Linked DNA regions of Homo sapiens. The protein of the gene in region 2 interacts with the protein of the main gene of each other region in a biochemical or structural test. Each region holds a gene or a part of one and is shown on either strand. Other genes may lie near its edges. The genes, in order: ACR and ZP4.

Region 1 (4,928 bases), on a different chromosome or scaffold from region 2:
GAGATACCATTTATCCCAGAAGCAACAGGTGACCCCATTAAATGGCAGCAGTGAGCAGCAAGGTTTTGCCAGCAGGACAAGACCCAGTAGGACTTGATCTCTGCATGTGACCTATACTTCCAGCTTTCCATAAGTGGTGCATCTCAATCTCTTTTTTTCTTGATAATGGATAATGAGGCTTCTTAATTCAAGGCAATTCAGTCATATGAGTCTAAAACGCAGCCTTTTTTGGGTAACAACAACAAAAAGTCAATAATTTGAGGATTCTTCCTTTAACTCTTATTTCCTTCTCTGAGGGCGTGGTCTAAGTTTCTGACAGGTTTGTCACCTCTCCTGTCCCTCAGGGAAGGGAGTCTCATCCCAGCTGTCCTTGTTCTCACTGGCCTCACTTGACACGTGGCCATCCCCTTCTGGCCTGGAGTGACAGCCTCTATTCCAGCTGCCGATACCCATGGCTCTGCCCTGGCCTCTGTCCAGCCCCCTAGCCTGCCATGCTCTGTCCCCTGTCTGATGATGTCCACAGCTCTTGGGGGTCCCTATGTTCCTGGGAGGCTGATCTTAGGGTCCCCACTGCCAACCGTTGCTGTCCTATTCTATTACTCAGACAGATTGTAGTGTCCTAGCTATATCTTGGATGCCATGCAAAACCTTTTTTGTTCTGGAATTCCCATAAACCTAATAGGATCACTCTGTTTCTGTTTGGGGTTTTTTTGTTTTTCATTTTTGCAAACACATCCTGTACCCATAAGCCCAAGTCTTAAAGAAACCCCCAGGCTCCAACTCCTGTGATCCCTTCAAACCTTCCATGTCTTACCACCTCCTTCAACTCATCTGCTTTGGGGCTGGAAGGGTATTGCTTGGGTATTGCTTCTTTCCCATTGGGTTTTGAGTCCCTGCAGACTTTTAAGCATTTGTTATTTAAAGCCCAGGTGTCGGCTGGGTGCAGTTGCTCATTCCTGTAATTTACCCAGCACTTTGGGAGGCCGAGGCAGGTGGATCACCTGAGGTCAGGAGTTTGAGACCAGCCTGGCCAACATGGTGAAACCCAATCTCTACTAAAAATATAAAACATTAGCAGGGTGTGGTGGTGGATGCCTGTTGTCCCAGCTACTCGGGAGGCTGAGGCAGGAGAATCACTTGAACCCGGGAGGTGAAGGTTGCAGTGAGCCAAGATCACGCCACTGCACTCCAGCCTGGGTAACAAGAGCGAAACTTCATCTCAAAAAAAACCCGCCAAGGTGTTGGGATTTAGAAAACCCTTTTCTGTTTGAGGACACCTGGCTCTTCACAATAAAACCCATGGCTTTCAAGACTATGGGCTCTGCCCTAGACTTAAAAAGTCATCTTGGCCGGGCGCGGTGGCTCACTCCTGTAATCCCAGCACTTTGGGAGGCCAAGGAGGGTGGATCACAAGGTCGTGAGATCGAGACCATCCTGGCTAACACGGTGAAACCTCATTTCTACTAAAAATACAGAAAATTAGCCGGGCATGGTGGCGGGCGCCTGTAGTCCCAGCTACTCGGGAGGCTGAGGCAGGAGAATGGCGTGAACCCAGGAGGCGGAGCTTGCAGTGAGCCGAGATGGCGCCACCGCACTCCAGCCTGGGCGACAGAGCAAGACTCCGTCTCAAAAAAAAAAAAAAAAAAAATCGTCTTAATGGCTAATAAGCCAGGATTGTTGTCATTGTTGTTTCAATGTCACCCCTACCCCAAGGGCAGTGCATGTACAAAACTCTCACTGCTGCTTGGATGGTAAGAAAAGGTGGGGGCTAAGGGGATTAAAAAACGGAAAGCCAGCGAGCACTCGTTCAGCAGCCGCTTACCAGACGCCTGCTGTGTGCCGAGCCCTATGCACGTCACTCGTGTGTCCCCTGTCTCCCGTCCTGGCCTGTGCAGCTATGTTCTGGGTCTGCCCCTACCTCAGTCTGCTCCCATCTGCTCTGCAGGTGACGTCCAGATCCACCCCCAGGGTTGTAGGTGCTGCTGCGGTGGGGGCCAGAGTGGCTGCTGCTGTTGGGGACCCTTCTGTCTGTGGGACCCCTTGAAAAGGAGCAACGCTGGCGCATGCGCCGTAGCATCGGGTCTTTCTAACCCAAAGGTCACGGTAGAGAGTCCAGCGCTTTCTTTCTTTTTTTGTTTGAGACGGAGTCTCGCTCTGTGGCCCGGGCTGGAGTGCAGTGGCGCCATCTCGGCTCACTGCAAGCTCCGCCTCCCGGGTTCACGCCATTCTCCTGCCTCAGCCTCCCGAGTAGCTGGGACTACAGGCGCCCGCCACCATGCCTGGCTAATTTTTTGTATTTTTAGTAGAGACGGGGTTTCACCGTGTTAGCCAGGATGGTCTCGAACTCCTGACCTCGTGATCCGCCCGCCTCGGCCTCCCAAAGTGCTGGGATGACAGGCGTGAGCCACCGCGCCCAGCCAAGTCCAGGGCTTTCAAGGAAGTCCGCATCGGGGTTGTTTCAACCGCCCCTGCCCCTGCCAGGTCTGCCCGTGTGTGGAGGCGCTGCCCCGAGCTTCCCCTGCGGTCTCCTCGGAACAGATATGCAGCATATGGGGAGGGACTTATTGACCCAGCTGCAGCAGATCCCGTCCGCAGCTGAGCCGAGGAGTTCTGAAGAGGGACAAGAAGCAGGGGGAGTGGCTTACAGCCAGACTGTGGGAGTGGACAGTGTGTCTCAGACTGGAGTCTGGAGAGGAGCAGTCCTGAGGCCAGGCTGCAGCCCCACCACCTCTCTACTGTGACCTGGGTGGGCGGTGCTCCAGCCTTCTGATCCAAAATGGGAATAACGGGACCATGTGACTCAGGGAGTGCTTGGTGCACACTAGGTGTTATTGGTAATACTGCAACTAACCTCCATAATCCATCGTTAATACGCACACCCACCCCCCATCCACCTGTCCACGGGCCTCCACCCTTCCTTCCTCTCTTCCTCTCTCCTCTGGCCTTGATTTGGATAACATTTCCCCACCTCCTCCCACCACCTCTAGTCTGCTCTTTCTGGTGTATAAGGAGGGGTCGGGGCATCGACTGGATGGGTCTGAGGTTTAACTGGAGCATCACAGAGGATGGGGTTCGGTGGGGCAAGGAGGCAGGGCTTTTGTCCGTGTCTCCCGTGATCACTGACCACCGAGTGGTCTGACTATAGCCCCCAGGCCATCATCTATACTGATGGAGGCACGTGTGGATCTCATCGACCTGGACTTGTGTAACTCGACCCAGTGGTACAATGGGCGCGTTCAGCCAACCAATGTGTGCGCGGGGTATCCTGTAGGCAAGATCGACACCTGCCAGGTAACCTTCCTTCTGGCTTCTGGGCCCCTGGGTCCCTCCAGGACTCTCCCGGCCCCTGAGAACATCCTCCTTTTGGATCCCCAAGCTCCACTATCTCCACTGCTCTGCCCAGGGCCCTTCTCTAGTGACTGCTTCCCCGGTCCCTTTTCTAGCACCTACTCTCACAGTGGGGATGAGCGGTGACAGCCACCGGCTGCCCCTGCCATGTGCCCCTGTGGACACGTGGGTTTGCTCATCTCACTGCAAGGAAAGCCCTGACAATTCACACCCTCCTCACATCCCAAATGAAGCCCCTGACACCCCCTCAAACTTTACTACAACCACTTGTGTTTACAGCAGCAGGAGACCATGTCACTGTGGAAATTGTCCTCCCAGAGCCTTCCGACCCCTCTGGGCAGGGGAAGAGTGGCTCAGGCAGATAGTGACCTCTGTGTCCTTCTGGACAGGGAGACAGCGGCGGGCCTCTCATGTGCAAAGACAGCAAGGAAAGCGCCTATGTGGTCGTGGGAATCACAAGCTGGGGGGTAGGCTGTGCCCGTGCCAAGCGCCCCGGAATCTACACGGCCACCTGGCCCTATCTGAACTGGATCGCCTCCAAGATTGGTTCTAACGCTTTGCGTATGATTCAATCGGCCACCCCTCCACCTCCCACCACTCGACCGCCCCCGATTCGACCCCCCTTCTCCCACCCTATCTCTGCTCACCTTCCTTGGTATTTCCAACCGCCCCCTCGACCACTTCCACCCCGACCACCGGCAGCCCAGCCCCGACCCCCACCTTCACCCCCGCCCCCACCCCCACCTCCAGCCTCACCTTTACCCCCACCCCCACCCCCACCCCCACCTACACCCTCATCTACCACAAAACTTCCCCAAGGACTTTCTTTTGCCAAGCGCCTACAGCAGCTCATAGAGGTCTTGAAGGGGAAGACCTATTCCGACGGAAAGAACCATTATGACATGGAGACCACAGAGCTCCCAGAACTGACCTCGACCTCCTGATCTGACCTGGTTCTCAACAGACCCAGTGAGCCCTTCACTCCTGAGAAAAAGGAAAGATGAAATAAATAAATAAACATATATATATAGATATACACACACACATATCTGTATGTATACATGCATATACATCAAGAGATGCTTTCTGGACTTCTTCCTATCCCCCCTCCCAACCCAAATTTCCCCTATAAAATCTACCCTCTCTCCTTCACCCTACAATAAGGCGGAATTGCTTGTACATTAGTGCCAATCGTGTTTTTTAAAATCTTGATTTTTAATGCTGGAATAAGGTGACCTGGGGCCGTAGACCGGGGATGGTCTTTATTTCACACTTAGGGAGAAACGACAAATGGTGAAAATAAAAGAGCCATCTCTGCATGTGCAAGTCAAAGGGGGTGGACCCCCAAAGCAGCAGCTGTGAGTGAGCTGACGGGGAAAGAGGGGGTGTGGGTCCAAGTCTTCTATCAGGAGGCTGGTGGTGTTGACACCCACAGAGAAGATTCTGCATGAAGGTTGAACTCCCCAGAACACAAAGGCTAAGGAGGCCACTAGGCCACCAAAACAAGTGTCTACTACCAAACACAATTTTGCTTGTGGCTTGTTAGTGTCCAGTTGACACCAACAAGCCTGTTCATTACT
Region 2 (7,138 bases):
CAACCTCAGTGCAAGATCAACCAACCACAGTTTAACCCAGGCTCTAAATGATCTGGGGTTGAGTCTTGCCTCCCTGACTTATTGTGTGACCTCAGGCAAGTATTGCACCTCCTTGCTTCAGTTTCATGTGTTAAGAGGGGGATAGTAGTTCCTACCTCATTTTGCTTGTCAGTTAAGATTAAGATCTTGGAATAGCGTGTGCGATTATTAGGTTGGTAGAGAAGTAATTGCAGCCTTTGCCACAATGGCAAAAGCCGGGATTCCTCCTGTACCAACCTATACATACTCTGAGGTCAAGTTTATGTTAGAAAACCTCAGAGCAGGATTAGAGACAAGCAGAAAGCAACAGCCTTGAAGTGACTCTCCCTAAACAATCCAAGACCATCAGCCAAAGTCGCTATAAGTTTCTGTCAGTTAGAAGTTATCTGGCACTAGCAATTATCTGGCACATAGCCTTCAAGTCTGAGCGTTATTGACTTTATATCTGGATTCTGGGAGAATGGACAGTGGGAGTTGTAGAAGTCTGTTACATTGGGATCAAGTGTTCTTGGATGCATGGCTACATGGCAGCCTGCTATCACTTGATGTTTGCCTTCTGAGCAAACCCCTCTCTGGGTTTCATTGTAATTGCCACACTTCCTCAGCTGGTTTCAGAGGTGTGCTCACTTACTCACCAGTGTTTCCATAGTAGCAGGAATTCACCTCTTCAGAGCTATAACAACAGCCTAGCCCTTCACAGTCTCCTCGAGAGATGGGTGAAGGTGCACATGGCAGTCTGTCCCGTGCTGGGATGGAGTCACACCAGTCAGTATCTGGAGCATCTCGGGCTAGGTTTTGAAAAAGAGTAAGTCAGGTTAGATAATGGAAAAGTTAGTCTTGAATACCATTTTGATACAAGTCATTGACTTTGGATTCCTGTAGATATGTAGATGATTGAAATAGGTGTCTACTCCATATTGTAGATAGTATTGAGAGGTTACATGTTGTAGATTAAGTCTTGGGAGGTTGTCAACATTAAGTCACCTTGTAAGAGTGCCCTGCTATTAGTTTTTTAAAAACAAGAATGTCAACAAAATTGGTAGAAGCAGTTGGGGGGTTTCTTACTCCTTCCAGTAACAATCCTTCCTTCTGTTCTTTAGAGGCGTTTCTCAAGCCTTAGTTTGGATATGAGTTATCTGAAGATTGTTTTTGAGTTCAGGTCTGGTTCAGAACTGGGGTGGGGCCTATGATTCCTCATTTTATTAGTGCTGCCCATCCTGGCTATGTATTGGGAAGGAAGGCAGGTGAGAAGAGTGAATTTATAGTTTGAGTCTGTTCTGACTTTGAGGACGGGCTCTCAGTCAGGCGAGACTTTCTAAAGTTGAGTAGGCATCATACTTCCTGCTGTTTCCTTAGGGAAATGCTCAGATACCCCTCCAGCTTGTGGGATGGAAGACCTGGGTCCTAGTCTCAGTGCACATCTAGCTCTGTGGAGGTATTTTTCCAAGTTCCCTTGCTAGCTTCAGTTTTATTTCCTATCATTCTCCCCATGGGTGAAAAGCTCCTGGTTCTGGGAGAGTTCTTTGAATCCCAGCTCAGTCATTCACCAGTGATAGGCCCTTGGGAAAACTTCCTGGCAAGAGATAGGTTGTATTTTTTTTTTTTTTTTTTTTGAGACAGGGTTTCGCTCTTGTTGCCCAGGCTGTAGTGCAAGGGCACGATCTCAGCTCACCACAACCTCAGCCTCCCAGGTTCAAGCGATTCTCCTGCCTCAGCCTCCCGAGTAGCTGGGATTACAGGCATGTACCACCACACCCGGCTGATTGTGTGTTTTTAGTAGAGATGGGGTTTCTCCATGTTGGTCAGGCTGGACTCCAACTCCCGACCTGATCCACCTGCCTCAGCCTCCCAAAGTGCTGTGATTACAGGTGTGAGCCACTGTGCCTGGCCAGCAGTAGTATTTGCAGCACTATGTTAGGGTTAGGGAAGGTAACACCTGAAGTGCTTACCCACAGTGCCTTGGCATTGAGGAGTCTCAATTGGTAGTTATCCTAAGGATTGCCCATGGAGGTGAGAGTTGGGACATGATCCTTCCTTCATTAGTGTCAGGTGTCACTGCACAGAGCAGGTCAGAGAGGACCAAGAGTACTTTCACACCCCACCCCCACCACCCCCACAAGACCCTGAGAGCTTCCAGCCTTTACCTAGAAGATCCATAGGACACTTGAGCAGCTTCCTCTCTGTAACCACCTTGTGTTCAGCCGCGCCTGCTCCTTCAACTCCAACTGGCATGATGTAGTGGGAGTCCTGGAGAGACAGGCCCTTGGGGGTCAGCCTGGATGGTAGCATGAGGCGCTTCACACAGTCTCCCTGGCCATTGGGTCATACTCACCCACTCAGTGACATAGCAGCTGCTATAGGTTGCCTCCAACACCACGGAGCTGCCTGGACCTTTTCTTATCCAGGTGCCACAGTCGGAGTCATTCTGCAGCTCGTGCAGCAGCCCTTGGTTGTCTGGAGGGGTGGGGAAGAGGTGAGAAAACACAGCGGTCAGTCTCCAGTGCCAGAAAGGATAGTCAGCCTTGCCATTAGACCCCAAGGAGCAACTGTCAATAAGAGGAACAAGAGGGAAATCAGATTCAGATCAGATGTAGTTATAACTTAGACTATTTCTTTTGCAGAAAGATGCAACAGGGCTCAGAAGGTGAAAGTATCAATACGGGAAGATAGGGAGACATCTTAGGTAGTAGAGGAGACATATCATTGCTTGGCTAAGCAAGGCAAGTCATCAAACTTACCCCAAGCTATTAGTACAGGAGGAGACGTTGCCTCCTGGTTGAGGTTTACAGCAAACTGGAAGCTCCACGGCCCACAGTGGAGCACACTGGAATAATCTGGTGCCTCAGGCTTATGCTGGCCACTCACAGCAAGAGATAATGAAACACACAGCAAAACGCACCGCAGCAGCCACATAATGCTACCAGGAGTTCCTGCCGGCTGCAGACTCTCCGCCTCCTCTCCCAAGAGCCGAGGGTCTGCCTGCCCAGATTCCTTTATATACAGAAGTCAGGCTTGTTTTCAGCTGCACATCTTTGTGACACTCAGGTGGGATGCCTTCAGAAAGGGGAATTCCTCTAGCCTCATTTGCTTTGGGGCACAGTCTGCAGCTGCCTCACATTAAATACCACAATCCAGGCAGACTTCAGAGCCCAAGAAAAATGTAGTAACTTTTAGCTAACAGAAAGGAAGGAAAGAAAGCTTCCTCAGGGTTGCTCAACATAGCATTTGTCCCACCAGTTTATTGAACTTATTGACTTCAGAAGACCTCCCTCTAGAATTTTGCACATTTGGGTGTGAAACTACCATCTATGAACTATGGGGTCTGGGTACGTTACAAACTCTCTGAATCTTGGTTTTCTCATCTGTAAAATGGGAATGCTATCTCCTGGCAGTGGTGTGCTTGAGGATTAAGCAAGAGATTCTATGTCAGGTGCCTGGCACAGTGCTTGGCCAAGCAGTGAGTGCTCAGTCAACATTGTCGGGTGAGAGTTGGGGCCCTTGAGAAGCCTTGTCACCTTCTCCATCCATTCTAGAAAAGTTTCTGTACGATTAGAGCCTGTCTTGAAATTCTAGAAAAAAATCTAAACTTATTTCCTGAGAAAGGTTGATTTTGAACCCTTTCCTGGTCCTTAGAGGGAATCCTACCACAGCAATCTTTCAACAAATTCCAAAGTGGTTCATTGCCATAACTGTCCTACAGTGTTTCCCCACAGGATCTGGGGGAAATGTGGATTAGGCCATGAATTCCTCAAACTGGTTCTGCCTCTTACAGCTATTTGACAATTTTATCTTTCGGCTGTGTTTCAGGCATATTTCATAAAGATGTCAGGGTTTCTTGCTTGCTTTCTACATTTTTGTTTTCCACATAAACTACAAGTTATATACTTTGGTCACTCTTTAAGCTAGAGTGTCAGACCAGATTGTAGAGAAATTCTAAGAGATTTGGGGATAAATGGATACATTCCCCACTGGAGAGGCAAGAGCATGGAAACTTGTCTTCTGCAGTCTGCCACCAATATTCCCAAATTGTACCCTGATTGTATTTAGACTGATATTTTTCGGTTGACTAAAAATTGTAGTCAAAGCACTGAGAATGTGTAACTAGGTATCTCTAGTTCTCTTCAACTCATCACAGAGGACAAATAAGTATGTGTCTTCCTGGGAAAATTGGTGGCCCTTTTAACCACATGATGAAAAATGACATTGAAGGAAAGCTGGACTCTGCCCTCAAAGACAGATGTGGCTTCCCTGACACCGTCTACCTGGATTAGGTGCTCACCACTGGGTTATTACATGCCATTTACTCACAGGATTTGCCAGGTTGGATTGTAATGACCTCTTTCTTATTCAGTTTGCCACTAGAAGCACGTGAGGCCAGGGACTTTTTTATTTGTCACTGCATCCTGCGTGCCTTGGATGTATGTACTCAGTGTTCTCTGAGTAAAGACTGAATCAATGAATATGCTTTCATTAGTGGCCATGTCCTAGGGCTAACCCCCTTGAAAATGTAGTTTCCAAACCTCACCGGTACAAATTCATTTCCTTTATGATGAGCTCAAACTCATAACCCTTAGGTATTTTTCCTTCAAGTAAATATCATGTGATTGCACATGTAAGAAAGAATCTGAGGATTTGACTCATGCAAGATGTCTCAGGAGTTAAAAGGCCAGTCTCCTGACTAGACTTACTAATATTGCTTTATGCTGAGACCAGCTCAGTCGGGGAGACCCTAACCCAGGGATGCTAGAGGAATAAAGACACACACACACACACAAATATAGAGGTGTAGAGTGGGAAATCAGGGGTCTCACAGCCTTCAGAGCTGAGAGCCTCGAACAGAGATTTACCCACATATTTACTGACAGCAAGCCAGTGATAAGCATTGTTTCTATAGATTATAGATTAACTAAAAGTCTTCCTTATGGGAAACAAAGGGATGGGCTGAAATAAAGGGATGAGCTCTGGCTAGTTATCTGCAGCAGGAGCATGTCCTTAAGGCACAGATCACTCATGCTATTTGTGGTTTAAGAACACTTTTAAGCGGTTTTCCATCCTGGGTGGGTCTGGGGTTCCTTGCCCTTATTCCGGTAGACCCATAACCTTGCAGCGTGGGCATCATGGCCATCACGACCATCACGAACATGTCACAGTGCTGCAGAGATTTTGTTTATGGCCAGTTTTGGGGCCAGCTTATGGCCAGATTTTGGGGGGCCTGTTCCCAACAGCTTTATAAAGTGGTGAAAAGTCAAGGAGCGTAACTTCCTTTGCTCATACTTGGAGGCAATATAGTATAGTATATCATGTGAGTTTTGACAATGGGTGGACTTGGGTACAAATTCTGACTGTTACTCTGCAACCTCTGTCAATGTATTAACCTCTTTCTCTCAGTTACAGTTTTTATATCTGTAAAATAGGGATAATAACATGGACAGTATTATTACAACAGACGGTTAGATGAAATAATGTATGTACAATGCTTGTTGCATAATTGCTACATTGTCACTAACATCAACAGGACCAGCCTGGGAGATAAAGGTGAGATGGGTGGCAAATGGAAAGCAAATGCCAAGCAGTGCACTCATTGGATCTGCAGGGAGTCTGAGGAACAGCCTATACTCATGAGGCTGCATTCCCAAATGAGGTCCTGTGTTTACATAATGAAGTTGAAAAATCACACAAGCCTGGAACTATGTGGAGCTATCTTGAAGTCCACCTAGGATCACACCCATCTCTCTGATGCTGCAGAGGGTCAAAGATGGATGCCAAGATAATGCAGGCAGGTCTGGGGTTAGGTAATGTTATGCTCATTCCTCTGCTGAATCTTCCAAGAACATCATCATTTAATTTCGGGATGAGAAAATGCACTGATAATGTGTGATCCACCTCGAGGAGCCCCAGGCTTAACAGAAAAAACATCCTATCCACTATTATCACAACATGAATGCTCTGTCCTTTGAATGTGAAAGGGCAAATGCTGTTCTTTGTCTTATGTCAGAATCACCCAGTCATTTAAAAATTGTTTCAGAGCCATTACGAACAGATTATGAGGCATCCTAATGTGTACAGACTTATCAAAAGCCCCATAGTCATGGTAGTATTCATGCAACCCACATTTTATAGGCGGGCTTAAGGATTCCCCTTGTGTTCCTTACCAAAGTACTTGGGAGTCCTGCACTGAAGCTAAGCTGCCCATTCCTCATTCACTGAAGCTGCCCATTCCTCATTCAGTGATCTGGCCACTCAGGTCATGAGGGCAACCTGTGTGATTGGGGAAAGGCAAACGGTGATTTCCAAAAACCTTCTTCAATCTGGTCATATTTACATTTGAGTGTTTCATTTTAAACTGCAGAATAGGGACATCACCCCACAAGGTTTGGATAGCATGGAGCTGTAGTACAATGCTTTCTGGCCATTGAGTACAGACTCCTCATCTGACATTAACAGTGATTGCCCCGCTGTGACTGGAGCAGGGTCCTCCTAACTGGAGAGTGAAGTACCACTCAAACAAGGCCCCAGGAAGCCCACTTCAAGTGTGGAGAAGCAATAATCAAAATTATCCCTCAAATATGGAGGGATGATTAGACCATTGTTGTGTTAATCAGTAATTAGGGAGCAAGGATGGTGCATCCAGCTGCTCTCTGCATGTGGTGGAAATTAGGACACTTCTCTTCTGAAGGAAGATGTCAAACTTAATTTACTGTAAGTACTTACATGGTTTTCCTTTTCAACAAGCAAGAATGAAGTGTAATTCAGAGTCAGTTGCGATGGCTTCCATTACTGGGTCTCTTGTTTCAACGCCTCTTTTGTGTCCAAGGTACAAGACCTGTCTCTGAAGTGTCTCCTGTGCTGACTGCACAGCACCTGCTCTGTTCTGATGTCTCTCCCCTCCCTGCTCCACACCTTCCTTTGCCATGATGGGTGGAAAATTATCATTCCCTTTCACAGGCAGGAGGATACCCTACTGAATGGGTAGTCGGACTTTGAGAGGGATGTCAGTATGGTTGACCCTTGAACAATGTGGGGGCTAGGGGTGCCAACCCCGCATGCAGCCAAAAATCCATGTAGAGTTTTTTGGTCCCCCTCAAATGTAACTAATGTA

The links.
Region 1: the proteins of ZP4 (region 2) and ACR form a complex in vitro, tested with the Homo sapiens proteins (one study listed by IntAct).

The regions. Positions count from the first base shown.
Region 1 is NC_000022.11:50,740,916-50,745,843, forward strand, and holds the end of ACR (acrosin precursor), read left to right. Parts: intron 1-3,145; coding exon 3,146-3,291; intron 3,292-3,737; coding exon 3,738-4,292; 3' UTR 4,293-4,424; downstream 4,425-4,928. UniProt on the Homo sapiens protein: Acrosin is the major protease of mammalian spermatozoa. It is a serine protease of trypsin-like cleavage specificity, it is synthesized in a zymogen form, proacrosin and stored in the acrosome.
Region 2 is NC_000001.11:237,887,684-237,894,821, forward strand, and holds the start of ZP4 (zona pellucida sperm-binding protein 4 preproprotein), read right to left. Parts: upstream 3,240-7,138; 5' UTR 2,953-3,239; coding exon 2,778-2,952; intron 2,494-2,777; coding exon 2,372-2,493; intron 2,287-2,371; coding exon 2,184-2,286; intron 828-2,183; coding exon 675-827; intron 1-674. UniProt on the Homo sapiens protein: Component of the zona pellucida, an extracellular matrix surrounding oocytes which mediates sperm binding, induction of the acrosome reaction and prevents post-fertilization polyspermy.